Regions from separate parts of the Homo sapiens genome. Here region 2 is linked to region 1. The links come from fine-mapping of genetic effects on gene expression. Tissue or cell type: whole blood. Region 1 holds a variant in brackets; the other region holds the start of a gene. Each region is shown on its reference strand, or each on the opposite one. Region 1 overlaps SP110 (SP110 nuclear body protein). Region 2 holds the start of ZNF547 (zinc finger protein 547).

Evidence for each region. PIP is the estimated chance that this variant, and not a neighbour inherited with it, causes the effect. A credible set is the group of variants that fine-mapping cannot tell apart.
Region 2: it holds the start of ZNF547, and the variant in region 1 is the best candidate, but not a certain one, in a credible set for the expression of ZNF547 in whole blood (TOPMed, PIP 0.66).

The regions. Positions count from the first base shown.
Region 1 is chr2:230,187,599-230,192,598 of GRCh38, reverse strand. The region is part of intron 10 of SP110 (SP110 nuclear body protein); the gene reads left to right. It also overlaps a transcript of SP140 not described here. Among named protein-coding and RNA genes, the nearest start is that of SP110, 30 kb to the left of the region's middle. The variant C/T (reference allele first, on the strand shown) is at 2,995.
Region 2 is chr19:57,360,525-57,366,064 of GRCh38, reverse strand. ZNF547 (zinc finger protein 547) reads right to left here and starts at 2,514. Exons shown (of 4, transcript NM_173631.4): 1 at 2,362-2,514. It overlaps TRAPPC2B (trafficking protein particle complex subunit 2B), which reads right to left and starts at 2,514. Exons shown (of 2, transcript NM_001355204.2): 1 at 2,362-2,514; 2 at 660-1,250. The coding sequence starts at 1,231. The coding sequence ends at 809. RefSeq lists enhancers at 2,462-2,841, 2,882-2,961.

The DNA.
Region 1 (5,000 bases):
TTGAAGAGGTCCTTCCCATCCTCTGTTAGCTGTATTCCTAGGTATTTTATTCTCTTTGTAGTGATTGTGAATGGTAGTTCATCATGATTTGGCTCTCTGCTTGCCTATTGTTGGTGTAAAGGCATACTTGTGATTTTTGCACATTGATTTTGTATCCTGAGACTTTGTTGAAGTTGCTTATCAGTTCGAGAAGTTTTTGGGCTGAGATGATGGGGTTTTCTAAGTATATAATCATGTCATCTGCAAACAGAAACAACTTGACTTCCTCTCTTCCTATTTGAATACGCTTTATTTCTTTCTCTTGCCTGATTGTGCTGGCCAGAACTTCTAATACTATGTTGAATAGGAATGGTGAGAGAGGGCATCCTTGTCTTGTACTGGTTTTCAAAGGGAATGCTTCCAGCTTTTGCCCATTTTATATGATATTGGCTGTGGGTTTGTCATAAATAGCTCTTATTATTTTGAGATATGTTCCATCAATACCTAGTTTATTGAGAGTTTTTAACATGAAGGGATGTAGAATTTTATCAAAGGCCTTTTCTGCATCTATCAAGATAATCATGTGGTTTTTGTCTTGGTTCTGTTTATGTGATGGATTATGCTTATTGATTTGTGTATGTTGAACCAACCTTGCATCTCAGAGATGAAACCGACTTGATCATGGTGAATAAGTTTTTTGATGTGCTGCTGGATTTGGCTTGCCATTATTTTATTGAGGATTTTCGTATTGATGTTCATCAGGGATATTGGCCTGAAATTTTCTTTTTTTTTGTTGTGTCTCTTCCCAGTTTTGGTATCAGGATGATGCTGGCTTCATAAAATGAGTTAAGGAGGAGTTCCCTCCTTTTCAATTGTTTGGAATAGTTTCAGAAGTAATGGTACCAGCTCCTCTTTGTATTTCTGGTAGAATCAGCTGTGAATCCATCTGGTCCTGGGTTTTGTGTTGTTGGTAGGCTATTAATTACTGCCTCAATTTCAGAGCTTGTTATTGGTCTATTCAGGGATTCAACTTCTTCCTGGTTTAGTCTTGATAGGGTGTATGTGTCCAGGAATTTATCCATTTCTTCTAGATTTTCTAGTTCATTTGTGTAGAGGTGTTTATAGTATTCTCTGATGGTAGTTTGTATTTCTGTGGGATCAGTGATGATATTCCCCCTTATCATTTTTATTCTGTCTATTTGATTCTTCTCTCTCTTCTTTATTAATATGGCTAGTGATCTATTTTGTTAATTTTTTCAAAAAACCAGCTCCTGGATTCATTGATTTTTTGAGGGTTTTTTGTGTCTCTATCTCCTTCAATTTTTCTCTGATCTTACTTATTTCTTGTCTTCTGCTAGCTTTTGGATTAGCTTGCTCTTGCCTCTCTAGCTCTTTTAATTGTGATGTTAGGGTGTCCATTTGAGATCTTTCTAGCTTCCTGATGTGGGCATTTAGTGCTACAAGTTTTCCTCTTAACACTGCTTTAGCTGTGTCCCAGAGATTCTGGTATATTGTCTCTACATTCTTCACAGAATTAGAAAAAAAAACTATTTTAAATTTCATATGGAATCGAAGAAGATCCCATATAGCTAGGACAATCCTAAGCAAAAAGGATAAAACGGGATGCATCCCACTACCTGACTTTGAACAATACGACAAGGCTACAGTAACCAAAACAGCACGGTACTGGTACCAAAACAGACATATAGACCATGGAGCAGAACAGAGACCTCAGAAATAACACGACACATCTACAACCATCTGTTCTTCAACAAACCTGACAAAAACAAGCAATGGCAAAAGGATTCCCCATTTAATAAATGGTGCCAGGAAAACTGGCTATCCATATGCAGAAAACTGAAACTGGACCCCTTCCTCACATCTTATACAAAAAATAACTGAAGATGGATTAAAGACTTAAATGTAAAACCCAAAACCATAAAAACCCTAGAAGAAAACTGAAGCAATATCATTCAAGACATAGGCATGGGCAAAGTCTTCATGATAAAAAAGCCAAAAGCTATTACAACAAAAGCCAAGATTGACAAATGGGAATTAATTAAACTAAACAGCTACAGCACAGCAAAAGAAACTAGAAATAGAGTGAACAGGCAACCTACAGAATGGGAGAAAAATTTTGCAATCCACCCATCTGACAAAGGTTTAATATCCAGAATTTACAAGGAACTTAAACATATTTACAAGAAAAAAACAAACAACTCCATCAAAAAATGGGCAAAGGATATGAACAGACACTTCTCAAAAAAAAAAAAATTTACGTAGCCAACAAACATATGGAAAAACGCTCAACATCACTGATCATCAGAGAATTGCAAATCAAAACTGCAATGAGAGACCATCTCATGCCAGTCAGAATGACAATTATTAAGAAGTCAGAAAACAATAGATGCTGGTGAGGCTGTGGAGAAATAGGAATACTTTTACACTGTTGGTGGGAGTGTAAATTAGTTCAACCATTGTGGAAGACAGTGTGGTGATTCCTCAAGGATGTAGAACCAGAAATACCATTTGACACAGCAATCCCATTACTGGGTATATATCCAAAGGAATATAAATCATTCTACTGTAAAGACACATGCACATGTATGTTTATCGCAGCAGTATTTACCATAGCAAAGACGTGGAACCAACCCAAATGCTGGATAAAGAATCCAGCATTTAGACTGGATAAAGAATATGTGGTACATATACATCATGGAACACTATGCAGCCATAAAAAGTAATAAGATCATGTCCTTTGCAGGTACATGGATGAAGCTGGAACCCATCATCCTCAGCAAAGTAACACAGGAACAGAAAACCAAACACCGCATGTTCTCACTCATAAGTGGGAGTTGATCATTGAGAACACATGGACACAGAGAGGGGAACAACACACACCAGGGCCTGTTGGGGTGTGGGTGGTGAGGGGAGGGAACTTAGAGGATGGGTCAATAGGTGCAGCAAGCCACCATGGCACATGCATACCTATGTAAGAAACCTGCATGTTCTGCA[C/T]GTGTGTCCCATTTTGGGGGGTTTTTTAGAAGAAAAAAATTGAAATTATATTAAGTATCTCCTCAGATCACAGTGGAATAAAACTAGAAATCAACTCCAAAAGGAACTTTCAAAACCATAACAAATAAATGGAAATTAAATAATCTGCTCCTGAATGATTTATGGGTTAACACTGAAATTAAGACGGAAATTAGAAAATTATTTGAAATGAATGGTAACAGTGACATAAATTATCAAAACTTCTAGGATACAGCAAAAGCAGTGCTTTTAAGAGGAAAGTTCATAGCGCTAAATGCCTACATCAAAAAGTCTGAAAGATCACAAATTGACAACCTAATGTCATGCCTCAAGGAACTAGAGAAACCCAAAGCTAGCAGAAAAAAAGAAAGATGAGAGAAGAATGAAATAAAATTGAAACAAAAAATAAAAAAGATCAATTAAACAAAAAGCTGGTTCTTTGAAAAGATAAACAAAATTGATAGAACATTAGCCAGAGTAACCAAAAAAAAAGAGAGAAGTTTCAAATAAACTCAACTAGAAATGAAACTGGAGACATTACAACTGACACCACAGAAATACAAAAGATCATTCAGGACTACTATGAACACCTCTATGCACAAAAACTAGAAAAATCTAGAGGAAATAAATAAATTCCTGGAGACATACACCCCTCCTAGATTAAATTGGGAATAAATAGAAACCATGAACAGACCAATAACAAACAGTGAGATTGAATCCAGCAGCCCATCAAAAATATAATACACCATGATCAAGTGGATTTAATCCCAGGGATTTAGGGATGGTTTAACACATGCAAGTCAATAATGTGGTACATCACAAAAACAGAATTAAAAACCATAGATCATTTCAATAGATGCAGAAAAAACATTTGATAAAATCCAGCATCCCTTTAGATAAAGATCCTCAACAAACTAGGCATAGAAGGGGCTTACCTCAAAGTTATAAAAGTCATATATGACAAACCCACAGCCAATGTGATACTAAATGGGAAAAAATCTAATGCATTCCCCTGGAGAACTGGAATAAGACAAGGATGCCCACTTTCACCACTTCTATTCAACATAGTACTAGAAGTCCTAGCCAGAACAATCAGAAAAGAGAAAGAAATAAATGACATCCAAATTGGAAAAGAAATCAAAGTATCACTGTTCCCTGATTATATGATCATATACCTAGAAAACCCTAAAGACTCCTTCAGAAGACTCCTAGATTTGATAAATGAATCCAGTAAAGTCTCAGGTTACAAAATCAAATGTACACAAATTAGCACTGCTATACACCTACAGTGACCAAGCTGAGAATCAAAGCAAGAACTCAATCCCTTTTAAAACAACTTCAACAAAATAAAATAAAATACCTAGGAATATACTTATCCAAGGAGATGAAAGATTTCTACAGGGAGAACTACAAAACACTGCTGAAAGAAATCATAGATGACACAAACATATAGAAACACATCCCATGTTCATGGATTGGAAGAATCAATATGAAAATGATCACACTGCCCAAGGCAATCTACAGATTGAATGCAATTCTTATCAAATATCAACATCATTTTTCACAGAACTGGAAAAAAAATCTTAAAATTCATATGGAACCAAAAAAGAGCCTGCAAAGCCAAAGCAATCCTAAGCAAAAAGAACAAATCTGGAGGCATCACATTACCAGACTTAAAATTATACTACAAGGCTATAGTTACCAAAACAGCATGATACTGTTATAAAAGTAGATACATCGACCAATGGAACAGAATAGAGAACTCAGAAATAAAGCCAAATACTTAAAACCAACTGATCTTTGACAAAGCATACAAAAACATAAATTGGGGAAATGACACCATATTTAATAAATGGTGCTGGGAAAACTGGTTAGCCACATGTAAAAGAATAAAACTGGATCCCTATTTCCCACCTTATACAAAAATTAACTCAAGATGGATCAAAAATTTAAACCTAAGACCTGAAACCAGAAAAATTCTATAAGAA
Region 2 (5,540 bases), not on the chromosome of region 1:
GGTGAAATCCCGTCTTTACTAAAAATACAAAAATTAGCCAGGCGTGGTGGTGCATGCCTGTAATCCTAGCTACTTGGGAGGCTGAAGAAGGAGAATTGCTTGAACCCGGGAGGTGGAGGTTGCAGTGAGCCAAGATCGTGCCACTGCACTCCAGCCCCTGCACAACAGGAGCCAGACTCCATCTCAAAAGAAAAAAAAAAAAGAAAGAAAGAAAGAAAAAGAAAGCTTATTCCCAATTTTTAAGTAAAAATATTTCATGGCCGGGAGTGGTGGCTCATGCCTGTAATCCCAGCACTTTGGGAGGCCGAGGCAGGCAGATCACGAGGTCAGGAGTTCAAGACCAGCCTGACCAACATGGCGAAACTCCGTCTCTACTAAAAATACAAAAAAAATTAGGCAGGCATGGTGGTGGGAGCCTGTAATCCCAGCTACTCGGGAGGCTGAGGCAGAATTGCTTGAACCTGGGAGGCGGAGGGTGCAGTGAGACGAGACTGTGCCACTGCACTCCAGCCTGGGCAACAAGAGCAAAACTCCGTCTCAAAAAAAAAAAAAAAAGAAAGAAATTAATTATTATTGATAATGAGTTCTTTATAAATAACATTGTTCACAAGGAAATACTAATTGATCTACTGATATGTGACATGAGACAGAATGTACTATTTTTAAATATAAAAGAAATTTCATTAAGTTTAGATAAGCTGAGAATACACAAAAGATTTCCAGGCTATTTAATCAAGTAATTTACAATGTACACATTCCTGAGTATACACCATTGTGGTGATATAATTTATTTTGGAATTTTCTCCATTCAGCTTAAAAGGTGTTTCTTCCCAAGAAACTGAACTTTTCTGTCAAATGCACTTGATCGAATAGGAGAATTGGGTTCATAAAATGGATTCATTGAAAATTTTATATATAAATCATAAACATCAGTAAAGAAGTTCTTTATTCCATCTTCTTGTCTTATGTCATGAAGCATAATAAACCTCATATGCCCCGCGGTGACAAATGCTGACACAAACCACTCGTTGAACTTGTCCACAGTTTTCAAGTACATGTTGTTCGACAGCCACATGTTCTCATCTACGAGGTCGAGAGCAGCATGAGCTATGAACTGGTTCAGATGACGATGGTCGTCTTTGGATTCTGCCTTCCCAGCTGGCAAAAACTCCATTTCAAAAACTGGATTATCATGGTGACCAACAATTACAAAGTAGAAGCTTCCAGACATGGTCTTCAATATATGGCTCCTGCAGCGGGAGGCCGACAACGGAAACGCAATGTCAGTTTCCGCGGAAGAGACCCGCGCTCCGCACCTTTTTTTGACACGGAATCTCGCTCTGTCGCCCAGGCTGGAGTGCAATGGCGCGATCTTGGCTCACTGCAATCTCCACCTCCTGGGTTCAGGCAATTCTCCTGCCTCAGCCTCCCGAATAGCTGGGATTACAGGCGCGCGTCACCACCCCCGGCTAATTTTTGTATTTTTACTAAAGACGGGGTTTCACCATGTTGGTCAGGCTGGTCTTGAACGCCTGACCTTGTGATCCGCTCGCCTTGGCCTCCCAAAGTGCTGGGATTACCGGCGTGAGCCACCACGCCCGGCCACCCTCTATTCTTTTGAAGAATCTACACCAGTTCTCCTCTGTAGACTCCACACCTTTCTGTCCCCCTACCCATGTGACATTTTCAACTTGAGACGCCTGAGAATCACACTGGCCAAACTCCAACCCATGATCTTCTCCATGAAACCTACTTCTCATGCTGCTGACTTCCCCAACTTCATTCTTTCAGATGTTCGGGCAAAAAAAAAAAAATGACCCTTCACTCCCTATTTTTGCTCACAGACATATCTGATACGGCAGGAAAACCTGTTGGCTCTATCTTCCAGGTCTATCCAGAATCCCATCACATTGTCCCTCTTATACCACGGCTCTGGTGCAGCCTCTGGGATCCACTGCAGTGGCCTCTTCTGGGTCTCTCTGTGTCAATTCCCCATCCTGCTCGTTCTAACTCTGGACCTGCCCCTCCCACTGGTCTTCCCTTGACAACCTTCCATGGTTATACCGGCTGCTCAGGCTGCCATTCCAAGAGAAAATTCACAAAACCCTCTCTTTCCCGCAGAAACAACCCACACTCCGGGCTCCCCGACGCGGCCCACTTGGCAGCACCTCCATGCTCTGAACCTGAGATCCCCGAAGGGAGCTCTGAGGCTGCATCAAACCAGCTGATACGGGGACCCCACACAGGAACGCCCCTCTCTTCGAGACAAGGGGCCTGACCTGCAGGGCCCCTTCTATGGGCTTCAGCACTGGAAGGAGGGGTCGGGCGGAGGTGGGGGGGGGCCTGGGACGGGGCACCCACCTCGGGTTCTTCGGCGGGGACTCCGCAAGTCCAGCCAGGGAAGAGAGGGGCGGGGGCGACAAAGGCAAGACAAGGACACCGCCGTCCCCAGTCCTTGTCAGCTGAGCTTCTGCCACTGTCAGTTGTGCCTGTGTCACTACCGCCTCTGCGTACAAGGAACCAAGCCGCTTCTCGCGCTTTTCCGCTCCGTCACTTCGGTGACGTCATAGAGCGCCAAAGGCCGGAACTAGTGAAAACACCAGAGAAAATCAAATCAACCACGGCAAGAGGACGCCGGAAGTCCCGCCCTCCTACGATGCGCGAGCACGAGGACGGACGCACGCACGCACGCACGCACGCAAAGGTTCCTTCCTGCACATTCATTGGGTCAGTCGCGCTGCCGAGAACCGCAGTGTCTTCTGGGTTATGAAGTTTCGACACCGCTTCTGGACTTGCCTTAGAGCGTTGGTCAGTCCTTATATGGCGGATAGAGGCTCAGTGGCACCGTCAGGGGAGCTGGTAAACAGAGTGCCGGACTCCACGGACAGGACGGGGCTTGGGTTGCTCTTAAAGGCGACATAACCAGATTTTCTTGAAGTAAGGTCTAGGATACTCACAGAAATGTGAGGGACCTATGATATCGGATTGTGAAGCACAGCAAGTTCTCAACGGCTACACCGCCAAAGGGACACACTATACCACAAAGGCACTCTGTCTCTACTCATGCCTCTCAGCCATATGTTGCTTTTCAAATACACATACAGTTAAACTTTGACTTCTATTTATTAAGCTTCAATATGGTTGGTCCAAGAGAACAAAGAAAGACTACATGGCTGGGAATTTGCACAAAAGAAGACAGGAGATACCGACGTAGATTGAAAGGGTGACGCTGTGCCTCTGGATCCAGAAGAAAACATCATTACTGTCTGTAGAGTCAGTGATTGTGTTCCTACCAAGAGTGCAATGCTTTTATTCTAATAATACTTATTACTTCATGTCTGAAATATTTTACATTTATTTTAAAAGTCTCAATCCTGTCTGAAAATGAGAGTGACTGATACATGCCATTTCCTGACAGGACATTTTGTGCCATTCCATAGTTGGAGTATATGTACACAGGGAACGTATTATCCCCAATAAAAACTGTGAACTTTCATGATCTTATCTCCTTCCTGAGAAGTGAGTTATCATTTTACAGGGAGTTGAAATTATCTGTGAAAATACTTGTGAAATGAAAATTACAGAAATCTATTAATAATAACTGTTAGGTTTTGAAGGGAAGGCGAGGGTTAAAGAAAGGCAGAGTTGGCAGCTCTACAGCAATGCAGGTTTTATGTCCAGCACGAGACCTGTGATGGGGAGAACTAGCTTAGTGCCAGAACCCCTCACTGCTTACAGGCTGGGGCAATTATAGGCCTGGATGAGAGGGGTCAGGGGTGGGGGGCAGGGGGCGCGGCGGGAGGGTATGACTTGCTGCCCAGGAGGATGGTGGGTTTTTTTTTGTTTTTGGAGGAGTCTCGCTCTTGTCGCCCAGCCTTGAGTGCAATGGCGTGATCTCGGCCCACTGCAACCTCCGCCTCCCGGAGTTCAAGCGATTCTTGAACTCCGCCTCCCGAGTAGTTGGCTTTACAGGCGCGTGCCACCACGCCCGGCTAATTTTTTTGTATTTTTAGTAGGGACAGGGTTTCACCATGTTGGTCAGGCCAGTCTGGAATTCCTGACCTCAGGTGATCCGCCCGCCTCGGCCTCCCAAATTGCTGGGATTACAGGCGTGAGCCACAGCACCCGGCCAAAGGATGTGCGTAAGATGTTCCTGAGGCAGTTTGGCCTTTTATCCGGCAGGATGTGATAGTGACCTTCCTTGGATCTTTTCCCAGAACGATGTGATAAGAAAGTCAGGCAGTTGGGCAGGATGTTTCTCAAGGCCCTCACTCCGTGGAATGCTTCACTCTGACCAAGGTCTGTGAGATGGCAGGGGGCTTACAGGATGGTGCAGTTTGGACTAACAGTGATTATGTTATTTCAAAACTAGTGGCAGAAATAGTCCTACAGAAATCTCTCTGTGACATGTGAAGGGGGGAAAAAGCAAGGTTACAGTAGAGTTTGAGCAAGAGTCTGAGAAGTCAAAGAATGAAGTTGAGACTGGCTGTGCTGGAACCTGGACACATTATGCTTCTGTCTCCTATATGTATTTCTTATTTCATACTTGAAAACATCGCTTATTAACTGTTTGGAGGGATAGAGATAACAAATGGAAACACTTGTCAAAAAATAAAAATGAAGGCCGGGTGCGGTGGCTCACGCCTGCAATCCCAGCAATTTGGGAGGCCGAGGTGGGCGGATCACGAGGTCAGGAGCTCAAGACCAGCCTGGCCAACATAGTGAAACCCTGTCTCTACTAAAAATACAAAAATTATCTGGGCATGGTGGCGGGTGCCTGTAATCCAAGCTACTTGGGAGGCTGAGGCAGGAGAATCGCTTGAACCCAGGAGGTGGAAGTTGCAGTGAGCAGAGATCGCGCCACTGCACTCCAGCCTGGGTGACAGTGCAAGACTCCGTCTCGAAAAATAAAAATAAAAATGAGTAGGCAATCTGTGTGATGATGTGTATTTACTGCTCTACAAAATGTTCAATGAGCACGTACAAACTGGGTTTCAGGTCAATGGTAGGTATATGGGACACACCGGGAATAGGGCTGCCAGCTGCTGTGTGTATACAGGACTGTTATGTGTTTCCTTAGATTCTGTATTTGTCTTTTTGGTATTCATAAATCACAGGTTCAAGCTAACAGCCAAAGTTGTTAACTTCTCTGTCTGCAAGCCACTTACTCAGAGGTGTGTGAAACTCACATAAAAAAACCCCAGCCAGGCTGGGCGCAGTGACTCACACCTGTAATCCCAGCACCTTGGGAGGCCGAGGCAGACAGATCACCTGAGGTCAGGAGTTCGAGACCAGCCTGGCCAACATGGCGAAACCCCATTTCTGCTAAAAATACAAAAATTAGCTGGGCATGGTGGCGGGTGCCTGTAGTCCCAGCTGCTTGGAAGGCTAAGGTGGGAGAATCGCTTGAACCCGGGAGGTGGAGGTTGCAGTGAGCCGAAATCATGCCACTGTACTCCAGCCTGGGCAACAGAGCAAGACTCCATTTCAAAACAAAACAAAACAACCCTGCCTTTAAAAAAGATACTTATTGTGTGTTA